Regions from separate parts of the Homo sapiens genome. Here region 2 is linked to region 1. The links come from fine-mapping of genetic effects on gene expression. A gene starts in region 1. The other region holds a variant in brackets. All regions are shown on one strand. Distances are from middle to middle. Region 1 holds the start of TSPAN33 (tetraspanin 33). Region 2 has its middle 22 kb from the start of TSPAN33.

Evidence for each region. PIP is the estimated chance that this variant, and not a neighbour inherited with it, causes the effect.
Region 2: its variant is fine-mapped to the expression of TSPAN33 in monocytes after Pam3CSK4 (Quach 2016, PIP 0.95).

Annotation. Positions count from the first base shown.
Region 1 is chr7:129,142,063-129,147,438 of GRCh38, forward strand. TSPAN33 (tetraspanin 33) reads left to right here and starts at 2,645. Exons shown (of 8, transcript NM_178562.5): 1 at 2,645-3,020. The coding sequence starts at 2,919. RefSeq lists a silencer at 2,558-2,767.
Region 2 is chr7:129,119,535-129,124,910 of GRCh38, forward strand. No RefSeq gene overlaps it. Among named protein-coding and RNA genes, the nearest start is that of TSPAN33, 22 kb to the right of the region's middle. RefSeq lists enhancers at 2,701-2,870, 3,321-3,590. The variant GGGCCCT/G (reference allele first, on the strand shown) is at 3,213.

The sequences.
Region 1 (5,376 bases):
GCTAATTTTTTTGTATTTTTAGTAGAGACAGGGTTTCACCGTGTTAGCCAGGATGGTCTTGATCTCCTGACCTCGTGATCTGGCTGCCTCGGCCTCCCAAAGTGCTGGGATTACAGGCATGAGCCACCCCGGCCTCATTTTGCTTTTTAAACGTAATGAGTTAACTTGGAGATCGTTCCAACTCAGTACAGAGAGAGTTTCCTAATTCTTTGTTCTATAGCTGCATGGCTTCCTACTTTGTGATGCCGTCCGTGACTTCCACATGAGGGACATTGTGGTCATCACTTTGAAGGCTAATCCCATCTCTACCTGTTAATTCCAAAACCTCATTCCAGCCATTATCCACCTTAATCCCTCTTGACTGTTTTGTTTTGTTTTGTTTTGTTTTGTTTCCTACGAACATGTTAGGTCTCTTATATGCTAACAGAGAACTTTCCCTTCACTCTGAAGTCCCTTAAGGCTCCCATAACCTTCAAAGCCAGACAGAGATGTCCACAGTTTCGTTCACAGCTTCCATTTCACCACCCATTCCTTCCTTGACACTGTGATATTCCTTCTTCTTCCCGTCTCAATTAAAAATGATCTCTTGGCTGGGCACAGTGGCTCATGCCTGTAATCCCAGCACTTTGGGAGGCCCATGCAGGTGGATCACCTAAGGTCAGGAGTTCAGACCATCCTGGCCAGCATGGTGAGACCCCATCTCTACTAAAAATACAAAAACTAGCCAGGCATGGTGGCGGGCGCCTGTAATCCCAGCTACTTGGGAGACTGAGGCAGGAGAATCGCTTGAACCAGGGAGGCGGAGGTTGCAGTGAGCTGAGATCAGGCCACTGCACTCCAGCCTGGGCGACAGAGTGAGACTCCGTTTCAAAAAAATAAAACTGATTTCTGGAAGATCATCTAATAGAAACATTCAGCATCTTGGTCTATTTCTCTATCCTCCCCGCACTAACATCTGAAAATGGCACCTACCTATTCACTCATTAACCTCTTGGAAAATGACTTCTGCCCACCCTACCTGCTTTATACTAAAACTGATCTCCAGTGTCACTTAACCTGTTAAGGGCCAGTAATCTCCCAGTAACCTGGCTGTGACTGCCTTCTTTAACCTCCACTCTTGGTGCTCCTGTTATGCCTGCTTGTCACCACAGCCTAGCCCTAGAGATTCTATCTTTCCAATGCCTTCCCTTCTATCCTCTCCTAACCATCTATTATTCTGTCTATTACTCCTAAATCAGTTCCTGATTTCTGATTATCTGGATGATGAGCAGCATGCTTCTAACAAATCTTTCTCTCTCCAGCCTCTTTCCCACTCCAACTGAAAACCATGGGTTTTCCATCATCCTTTTCTCCAAAACTCTTATTTCCAAGTCAATTAAGCACTAACTCCCCAATCTGATATTCAATTACTTCCGCAGTTTTAACACAATTCCACATGTAACGGCATCGGTCAGCATTATGTCCCACTGCTATTCCAAGCATACCCTGTGCTCCAGCCACAGCAGTCTGCTTATTTTGCACGAAACACATGGCGTGCTTTTGCACCTCCAGGCTTTGGTTCACCCCCTTTTTTTTTAATCCACCTGGATTATGTTTCCCCTCCGTCTCTACTATTCTAAATCCCATCCTCCCCTAATTTCACTTGCCACGCTATCTTCACTAACCTTCTACCAAACGTATTATAATTATTTGTGCGGTTATCATATTTCCACACTGGATTCTTAATTCTGCTAAAACGAAATACTGTAATGCCTTTGATGAGCCTTCCATGTGCCAGCCATGTGCTAAGTGAGCTACATGCATTATCTCATTTAATCCTCAAATCGCCATCTAGGTCAGGACTCTCCCATTTAACATTAAACAAACTGAGGCTCCGAGAGATTAAGTAGCTTGCAGCTTTCACGCAGCTAATTATGGTGGAATCAGATTCCCTCCCCGAGGTTCAACTTGTATTAGTTAGGGTAGCCAGCATAATATATTCGCCAGCTACGCTGCACTCAACCTGTGTGTGCCGGATCAGCATGTTAAAAACGGTGTCTGCAAGTAGACCAAGGGAAGAGGGGCTGCGGGGGCGGGAATTGAGACAGCAATGAATTAGGATGGCGGGATTGGCGGTGATGTTTCCAAATTTCCACTGTTGGGTTGTAGAGCTTCTGAAATAAGCATTTAAAATGTATAGTTACTAAACAAGATTGCATCTACCCTTGGTCTAATTGTTATGTGTAGGTTAGTTTTGTCTCCCTGATTTTATTGTCATCCCCCAGGGATTGTTTCTGTTCTCCCGCGTTCCCAGAGCTTTCGGCGCATTGCTCAACACACGGTGTGCGTACTTGTTGATTTTAATGTATGTGTGTTTGCATATGTGCACAGCAGCTGGGCGGAGGACGTGGGTGTGGGATGCACTGTGCATTCCTTCTCCTCACTCTTGTTCCTTTGAGCAGCTGCAGCCTGGATGCTTTCCCTTAGGGGTAGGGGAGAGGCAGAACCGCTGACCCTTTAACAAGTTATCCCTCACAGAACAGGTGTCTCCCCCGACTCTCGGTGGAGAGGGATGGCTGGATACTTAGTGACATCAGCCACGAGCCAATGGGAAGTCGGGCTCCAGCCGTCGCGCCAATGAGCGGCCGGGGGCGGGCCGGGTTTCCTGGGCGCCTGGCTGGCCGGGCTGGTCCTGCGGCCGCGGGTGAGTCTCGTCCGCTCGCGCTGCCCACCGCGGCTCCAGCAGCTCCAGGCGCGGTTCCCCGGCCCGCGCCGCTCCCGGCCCCCCGGCTCGGGCGCCTCCCGCCGCAGCGCAGGCTCCCCCGCCGGCCGGGCTCCTGCGCGGCGCGGCTCGGCTCATGCCCCCGGGCGCGGGGCACACAGGCCGGCCGGCAGCCGCTGGGAAATAGGCCCCCGGGGGCGGTGGCGGCGGCGGGGCCATGGCGCGGAGACCCCGGGCGCCGGCCGCCTCCGGGGAGGAGTTCTCCTTCGTCAGCCCGCTGGTGAAATACCTGCTCTTCTTCTTCAACATGCTCTTCTGGGTGAGTCTCGGGGTCGAGGGCACCTGGGCGGCGGGGTCCCCCCGCGGGGTGGAAGGGTGGCCCGGGGTGCCCCACGCGCGGGAGCCGCACTGCCGAGTTTTCTGGGCTGACGGCACTTTGGGGGAATTTATCCTGGGGAGGGACACCCCGGGGACGCCGCGTCTGCAGGGGGCGTTGTAGGGAGGAGGGTATGCCAGGGAATCAGTAAAGACTGATGGGTATTCTCGGGGCGTCGGAGGAGGGTCTGTGTTAGGCTAGAAATGTGGGTTTGAGGGAGCCTGTTGGCCCAAGGCGGACCCACTGACACATTCATGATGGGGGTCGGGGGTGGCGGCTGACTTTCAGGCCTGGGGGCCTGGAGGCCCGGCTGGCAAAGAAAGAAGAGGAAGGAAAAACCCAAACCTCTCTCTCCACCACCTCAGAGAGGATGGGTTACTGGCATCATCTCTTCCTTTTGCAGGCCTCATCTACCCCCACCTCCACCCCCCCAAAGTCTAGGAAGAATGGCCTCCAGGTGCAGATGTCTTTCCCATCCCAGCACTGCCCCAAACTTTGTCCCCTCCCTGCCACCCTTCTCAGGACCAGACTTCACCCCTGGAGCCTGGCAATCACCAGTGTCTTTAAACAGGACCCCGTGTTGGGCCGGAGGGCCAGGGGTCCTTTCAGAATCTTCTGCTTGGGGTGGAAAAAGTATTGGGCTGGGACTCCGGACACCTGGATTCCCATCCCACTCTGCCGTTCATTGTTGACTTGACCGACCTAAGCATGTATGTTCATGTCTGCAGGCCTTGACTCCCTCCCCCACAAATCCAACCCAGTGTGATCAGGGGTGGCAGAAAGACTGCTGAAGCTGAGAATTGAGCTGAACCAGATCATGCAATGCCAGCTCGACCCTGTTTCCTGGCTAGAGAGTCCTGGAGGTCCTGGGGTGTGAGAACATAGGGACATCCTTCCCCCATTCACCTCCTCTTCTGGCTCCTACCACACCAGAGCTGCTGCTTCTGGAGCCCACCATCCTTGCCCACTTCAGCTGGAGACCTAAAGTTCAGACTTGCAGGAGGGAAGAATTGAGTCTAAAATATGTTTCCTAGGGGAGGGAGCAGAACAGACATCTAAGCCATTTGCTGGAAAGGTTTCACAGGGCCCGTGGGGTGAGGTGCAGACACAAAGCCCATAAGTGCTGGCCTGTTGGGACAAATGAGAGAAATCCCATAGGGTGGTGATGACAGCGCACTCAGCCATCCTACTCCTGGGGAAAATGAAACTTGTGCTCCTATCAAATGCTCAGTTGTAAAACTGGAAAAAAATTTTAGAAGACATCTTGTCCAGCATCTGTGTTTATGTCTATAAAATGTAGAAAACTAAAGCACAGAGATGTTAAATGTTTTGTCCAAGGTCCAACAGCTGGTTAGCAGGCTTGGTCTGGTGACCTTTCTACTGAACCACAGTGCCGCTGGGGGAAGTCCTCAGCACAGATGGCTGCTGCTATAGCTGGGGTATGGGCAGTATTAGTAGTTAACCAGTCAACCCAAGTTCCCATAGTCTAGGTTCTGCTTCAGCTGGAGGTTAGGGAAAAACACAAGAAAATCCCTTACCACTCTACCAGTGCTGGGGGATGTACTAAGAGACTCCCCACTTAGGGGCAAGTATCAGTGAAGTCTCTGTGCTCACTGAGTGTGCCAGGCCAGTGACGTGACATCCTCGGAGCCAGCACTAGCATTTCAGGGACTTTAGGTCGTCACTCTGACTTCCTTTATCTGCCGAGACTGTCTCCCTTGGAGCCATTGGTACCTCACCCTTGTCTGTGCTCGCCAGTGACAACAGCTGGGTGCATCTGTTACACTTGTGTTCCTGGTCATTTTTTTTTTCTCGAGCTTCCCTACCCCCTACCTCCACCCTACCCCCCTTTTATCGGACAAACGACTTTGAGAGATCTCAGCCAGGAGAGAGTTTGGCTCCACAGACCCATTTACCTTGGTAAAAATGCTTCATTCAAGGTCAGAAGACGTGGGTGGCCAAGCTAGCACCACCCCAAATTAGAATAGAGCCCCTTCTTGGCCCTACAGTAGACTCATAAAAAATCAGAGGCTCTAGAAATAGCACACTGAAAGACAAGAGGCTCAGCATCTTTTTGGCACCAACTTACTGTGTGACCCTAAGCCAATGTATCTGTCTCTCTGACCTTAATCTTTCTCCTCTAAAGGAGAAACAATTTCTGCCTCAGTGAACTATTTAAGGATGAATGAATCATTTTGGGGACTGTTTTCTTTCTTCAAGACCTAGAGCTGGATCTAAGGATGAATCTCCCTGTGTCCTGATTGCCCTTCCTAGGGGACAGTACTTTTCAGGTGTTATT
Region 2 (5,376 bases), 23 kb before region 1:
TTTGAGAAATATCTGTTCAGATCATTTGCCCTTTTATTTATTTATTTTATTTATTTTTATTTTTTTTGAGACAGGCTTGCTCTGTCACCCAGGCTGGAGTACAGTGGCACGATCACAGCTCACTACAACCTCTGCCTCCCAGGTTGAAGCCATTCTCCTGCCTCAGCCTCCCGAGTAGCTGAGATTACACCCATGTGCCACCACCACACCCGGATAATTTTTTATATTTTTAGTAGAGAGGGGGTTTCACCATGTTGGCCAGGCTGGTCTCCAACTCCTGACCTCAAGTGATCCACCCTCCTGACCTCAAATGATCTGCCTGCCTTGGCCTCCCAAAGTGCTGGGATTACAGGTGTGAGCCACCATGCCTGGCCCATTTGCCCATTTTTTAAATTGAATTATTTGCTTTTTTGCTATTGAAGTGTTTGAATTCCTTGTATGTTCTAGATAATAATCCCTTGTTGGATGAATAGTTTACAAATATTTTCTCTCATTCTGTTGATTGTCTTTTCACTCTATTGATTATTTCCTTTGCTGTGTAGAAGCTTTTTAGTTTGATATAATCCCATTTGTTTATTGTTACTTTTGTTGCCTATGCTTTTGAAGTCTTATAAAATCTTTTCCCAGACCCATGTCCTGAAGCATTTCCCCATGTTTTCTTCTAGTAGTTTTATAGGGTTGGGTCTTACATTTAGGTCTTTGATCCACTTTGAGTTGATTTTTGTATAGGATGAAAGTCAGGAATCTAGTTTCATGCTTTTGCATATGAATATCCAGTTTTGCCTCAACCATTTATTGAAGAGACTATCAATAAGGGTTCTTGGCACCTTTGTCAAAAAACAGTTGGTTATAGATACATGGATTAATTTCTGGGTTCTCTATTGTTCCAGTGTTCTATGTGTTTGTTTTTATGCCAGCGCCATGCTGTTTTGCTTACTACAGCTTTGTAGGATATTTTAAAGTCTGGTAGTGTGATGCCTCCAGCTTTCTTTTTGCTCAAGATTGCTTTGACTATTTAGGGTCTTTTGTGGTTCCATATACATTTTAAGATTTTTTTTCTATTTCTATGAAGAATGTCGTTGGTATTTTGATAGGAATTGCATTAAATCTATAAATTTCTTTGTGTAGTAAGATTTTGTTCTGAATGCTAAAACTGTAGGTATAAATAGGATGGCACTGCTGGCCCAGAGGAAGGCCTGATTAGCCAGGGTGCCCCCTAATAGCTCTGACTTCACTAGTACCCAACCTTCTCTCAGTACTTTGAGGGATTAAGACAAAAATATCACATCATAAGTCTGATGCTGAAACAAGTTTGTTCCTTTAATGAGATAGTTTTTGACAAATTGGATCCAACATCTCCTGTTAAAATGGAAATACATATTTAGAGTCGTGGTAGGGCAGGTAGACAAGTAACAAGCCTGAGTGGCCATCACCACATTGGTATGAATTAATTTAGGAACAAAGAAAAACTTCCTGGGAGGATATGATCTATAATGGGATGGTTGGGGGGGGGGGTTGTTAGTGGTGGTGGTAATGGGTTATTTTAGTTTTGAATGTGTGTGTTGCAGGGAAGGAAAAAGGTTGGTGGAGAGTTCAGAGCCAAAGCCATGCTGAATGACAGGTGGAAGACAGTCTGATGGATCATAGTCACTGTTCTTAAAGAATACATAATTCAGGCTTGCATGAGACAAGATGAACCACTGACATCCTAATTTCTCAAAGTAGTCATTGGAAATGGAAAGAAGAGCCAGGATTTATTGGAGGGTATATTCACACAGAAGGGGTTCATGAAGGTGAGGGACCCTTTCACCTCCCCACTGGGCAGAAAGCACTTGCCAGAAGAAAGGGTTGCAAAAGAAGGTTGAACTCAGCAAGAAAAGTGCCTTGGGTCAGTCTCTGTACTGCTAAATAGGGCCTACCACCCTACCCTGCCAATCCCTACATAGGCCCTGTCTTCAGTAAACACTAGAGTTCGCTTACCTTCCATTCCAAGAACCAATCTGACATCTGCTGTATTAGTCTGTTTTCACACTGCTGATAAAGACATACCCGAGACTGGCTAATTTACAAAAGAAAGAGCTTTAATGGACTTACAGTTCCACATGGCTTGGGAAGCCTCACAATCATGGCGGAAGGCAAGGAGGAGCAAGTCACATCTTACATGGATGGCAGCAGGCACAGAGAGGGCTTGTGCAGGGAAACTCCTATTTTTAAAACCATCAGATCTCATGAGACTTATTCACTATCATGAGAACAGCATGGGAAAGACCTGCCCTCATGATTCAATTATCTCCCACCCAGTCCCTCCCACAACATGTGGGAATTCAAGATGAGATTTGGGTGGGAACACAGCCAAACCACATCATCTGCTGTGCCTCATCCCACAGATAGCAGAGCTTCCTCCTAATCTATCAAGAGTTCAGCATTTAGTGAGTGGTCAGGATCTCACCCTTCATTTAACCAACTAACCACCACCAACCAACCACCACCATCAGAGGTGGGCCTAAGGCAGGCCTTGGGGTCTCTGGGAAGTGGGCCATGCTCAGTCTACATCCCAATGTGCTATGGCTCCTGACACTCTGAGCAGGGGCTCTCCCTTGCACACACCAAAGGAATGACTGGGCTTAAAAAACGTGCCAACTTGCTTATAAATCAGTCTCCTCAGATTCTACAATTCACCGAGCCATAAAACCTCAGAGCTTCAAAGATGCTTAGAAAATATCAAGGCCAGGGTTCCCAGGAAGCCTCAATGCTGCCATTTTACAAAGGAAGAAACTGAAGTGCAGAGAGATTAAGGGGCTTGTCCAGGTCACACAGCTACTTAGTGGTAGATCTGTAACTAGAAAGGTTTCAGTTCACACTCAATGTTCTTTCCTCTAGAATCTAACCTCTGCCCCCTTGTTATTTTTGGCATGAGAGAGGAGGATTATATTTATGTCTCTAGAAAAGCTGTGCTTTTGGATTGAATTCTGATTTTCTCTTCTCAAGTCTCATTGAGAACCACATGAAAAAACTCTGCTGGATTTGAGTTAAAAAAAAAAAAAAAAGAATCTGAAGAAAAAAATAGCAAATCTGGTATCCTAATGAGATAATGAATGCACAAGTACTTTGAAAGAGGTACAGCACTTCAGTGCTTTTCAGATATGAGGTTTTGTCATGCTCTTGAAAGAAATGCATAGGCTTTACTGACATGGGGGCTGGGGCTGGGGCTG[GGGCCCT/G]GGCAGAAATGGGGAAGCACAGGCTGTGGCAAGGGGGGTTTCTCCAGAAGGCTGACTCATTTCTTGGCTGTCCCAAGCTTAGAGAGCCAGATTTCTTAGGGTTGTTTACCACCTTAGTAAGGAACTGGTGGAGGGTTTTTTTCTGGAGTTAAGCACTGCAGGAAGAGCTGCCCACAGTATGGGGGTGGGTCATCTGCTTCTGGACTGCCCAGGCCAACTGTGGTTACCCCAGTTAACTGTGGTGAACTGTCCACATAACCAGCCTTCTGGATCTGCCTTTCAAGGAGTCCCACTGTGCTTCTCCCTGCTGAGGCCGCTGAAAGGGCATAGGCAATTGCTAGAGGTGAAGAAAAACTCTGTAGCTAAGCTATAAAAACAGGCATCCTGAATCTGGCTACATCCTGGTAATCTTGCACATAGGATGAATCCTAAGAAAAGGTGAGTCTTGTTAATGTGCACAGCACACAAGCCAGCGGGATGGCGTGCCAGTCAGCAGATTTTCAGTTTCAAGATAACTGAAAATCCATTTTTATCTGACTTAGACAAAATGAAACAAAACACCAAACCAACAAACAACAACCACACAATTTCACTGATTCGCATAACTGAAAAGTCTAAGGTTAGGGCTTGTTTCAGGCACCACTGATCTTGTGGCTCAAACTATGTCACTGGGACTTGGTTTAACCCTGTCTCAGCTCTACCTTTCCTCAGTGTTACCTTCTCTCTCAGGAGCCCTGGGGTAGCCCCCAGTGGCTGCAGGTCATCTGTAATCCCAGGGGGTCCCAGCAAAAGAGAGAGGGAATCCCTTTCAGTAATGGTCCTCCTCCCCAACTAAATTAGAGGCTTCATTCTGACTGGACCAAGTTAGAGCGCATAACCATCCCTGGGCTCTGATTGGCCAGAACAGAGTCCGGCGTTCCACCTGCCAGGTGGAAGGGTAGATCTCTCCCATGCTCACTGAGCCTGAGACAGGAGGTGGGGTGGCATCCCAAAGGAAATCTAGCATGCTGGTACCAGAACGGGGAATAGGTGCTGGGCTTGGAAAAATAACAGACAAACACTCAGTGCTACCCATTTAAGCATTTGAAATAATTTCACTTCAAAATCAGAGTGGTCGAGTCTCAGACACATGAGATTCTGTCTCAGATTTCTGGTGGCTTGAATGGAGGGTGTACAGAATCATGTCTTGATAAATGTTTAACTTCTAAGATTTGAAGTGCAGATATTGGTCTGGGTATCCCTCCTAGAAATCTTTGCATTTTCTGCATTTTCTTTTTAATATTTTATTTTTATTTTTATTTTTATTTTTTTGAGACAGTGTCTCAGTCACCCAGGCTGGAGTGCAGTAGTGCGATCTTGGCTCACTGCAACCTCCGCCTCCCGGATTCAAGCGATTCTTGTGCTTCAGCATTCGGAGTAGCTGGGACTACAGGTGTGAGCCACCACGGCTGGCTAGTTTTTGTATTTTTAGTAGAGACAGGGTTTTGCCATGTTGCCCAGGCTGGTCTCGAACTCCTGGCCTCAAGTGATCCTCCTGCCTCAGTCTCCCAAAGTGCTGGGATTACAGGCGTGAGCCACTCACTGCACCTAGCCTATATTTGAATTTTAAATAGTGATTCCACACCTTAACCTAACCATAATGGGAATTGGATTAGAGAATGGTGGGAATTTCAGACAAGTTGGTGAGGGTGAGAAGTAAGGGAAGAGAAACGTTATGGAACCTCTCACATAAAAAGTGCACAGTGGCCTACCCCTATATGGATGTGAGACTGCTCCTGATAGGAAATATCCCCAAACCCCTTGTTTGCAGTCCACGGCCCCAGTCTCAACTCCACCAAATCATGATGCTTCCCCTGAGATCATGATTGCGTTGCCCAGTTTCCTCTCTGACCAGACCTGATTCTACAGACAAAAGCCAACCTCCTCACTTCGATTCCCCTGGATCCTTTCCTCCTCTTCACATCTACAGCCGCTCTTCTAACTTCTTACTCCCGTTGCAATTCCAGATATTCCAGAGACAGGATATCTCCAAGGCACTCCAGGGCCCCAAATAACAAACCTTATTTGTTTTCCACCTCACACAATCTGAACTCTTCTGCCTGCCCTTTGAAACCCTTCGCGAACACCTCCAACCTTATTTCTTGCTCCTCCTCAATAC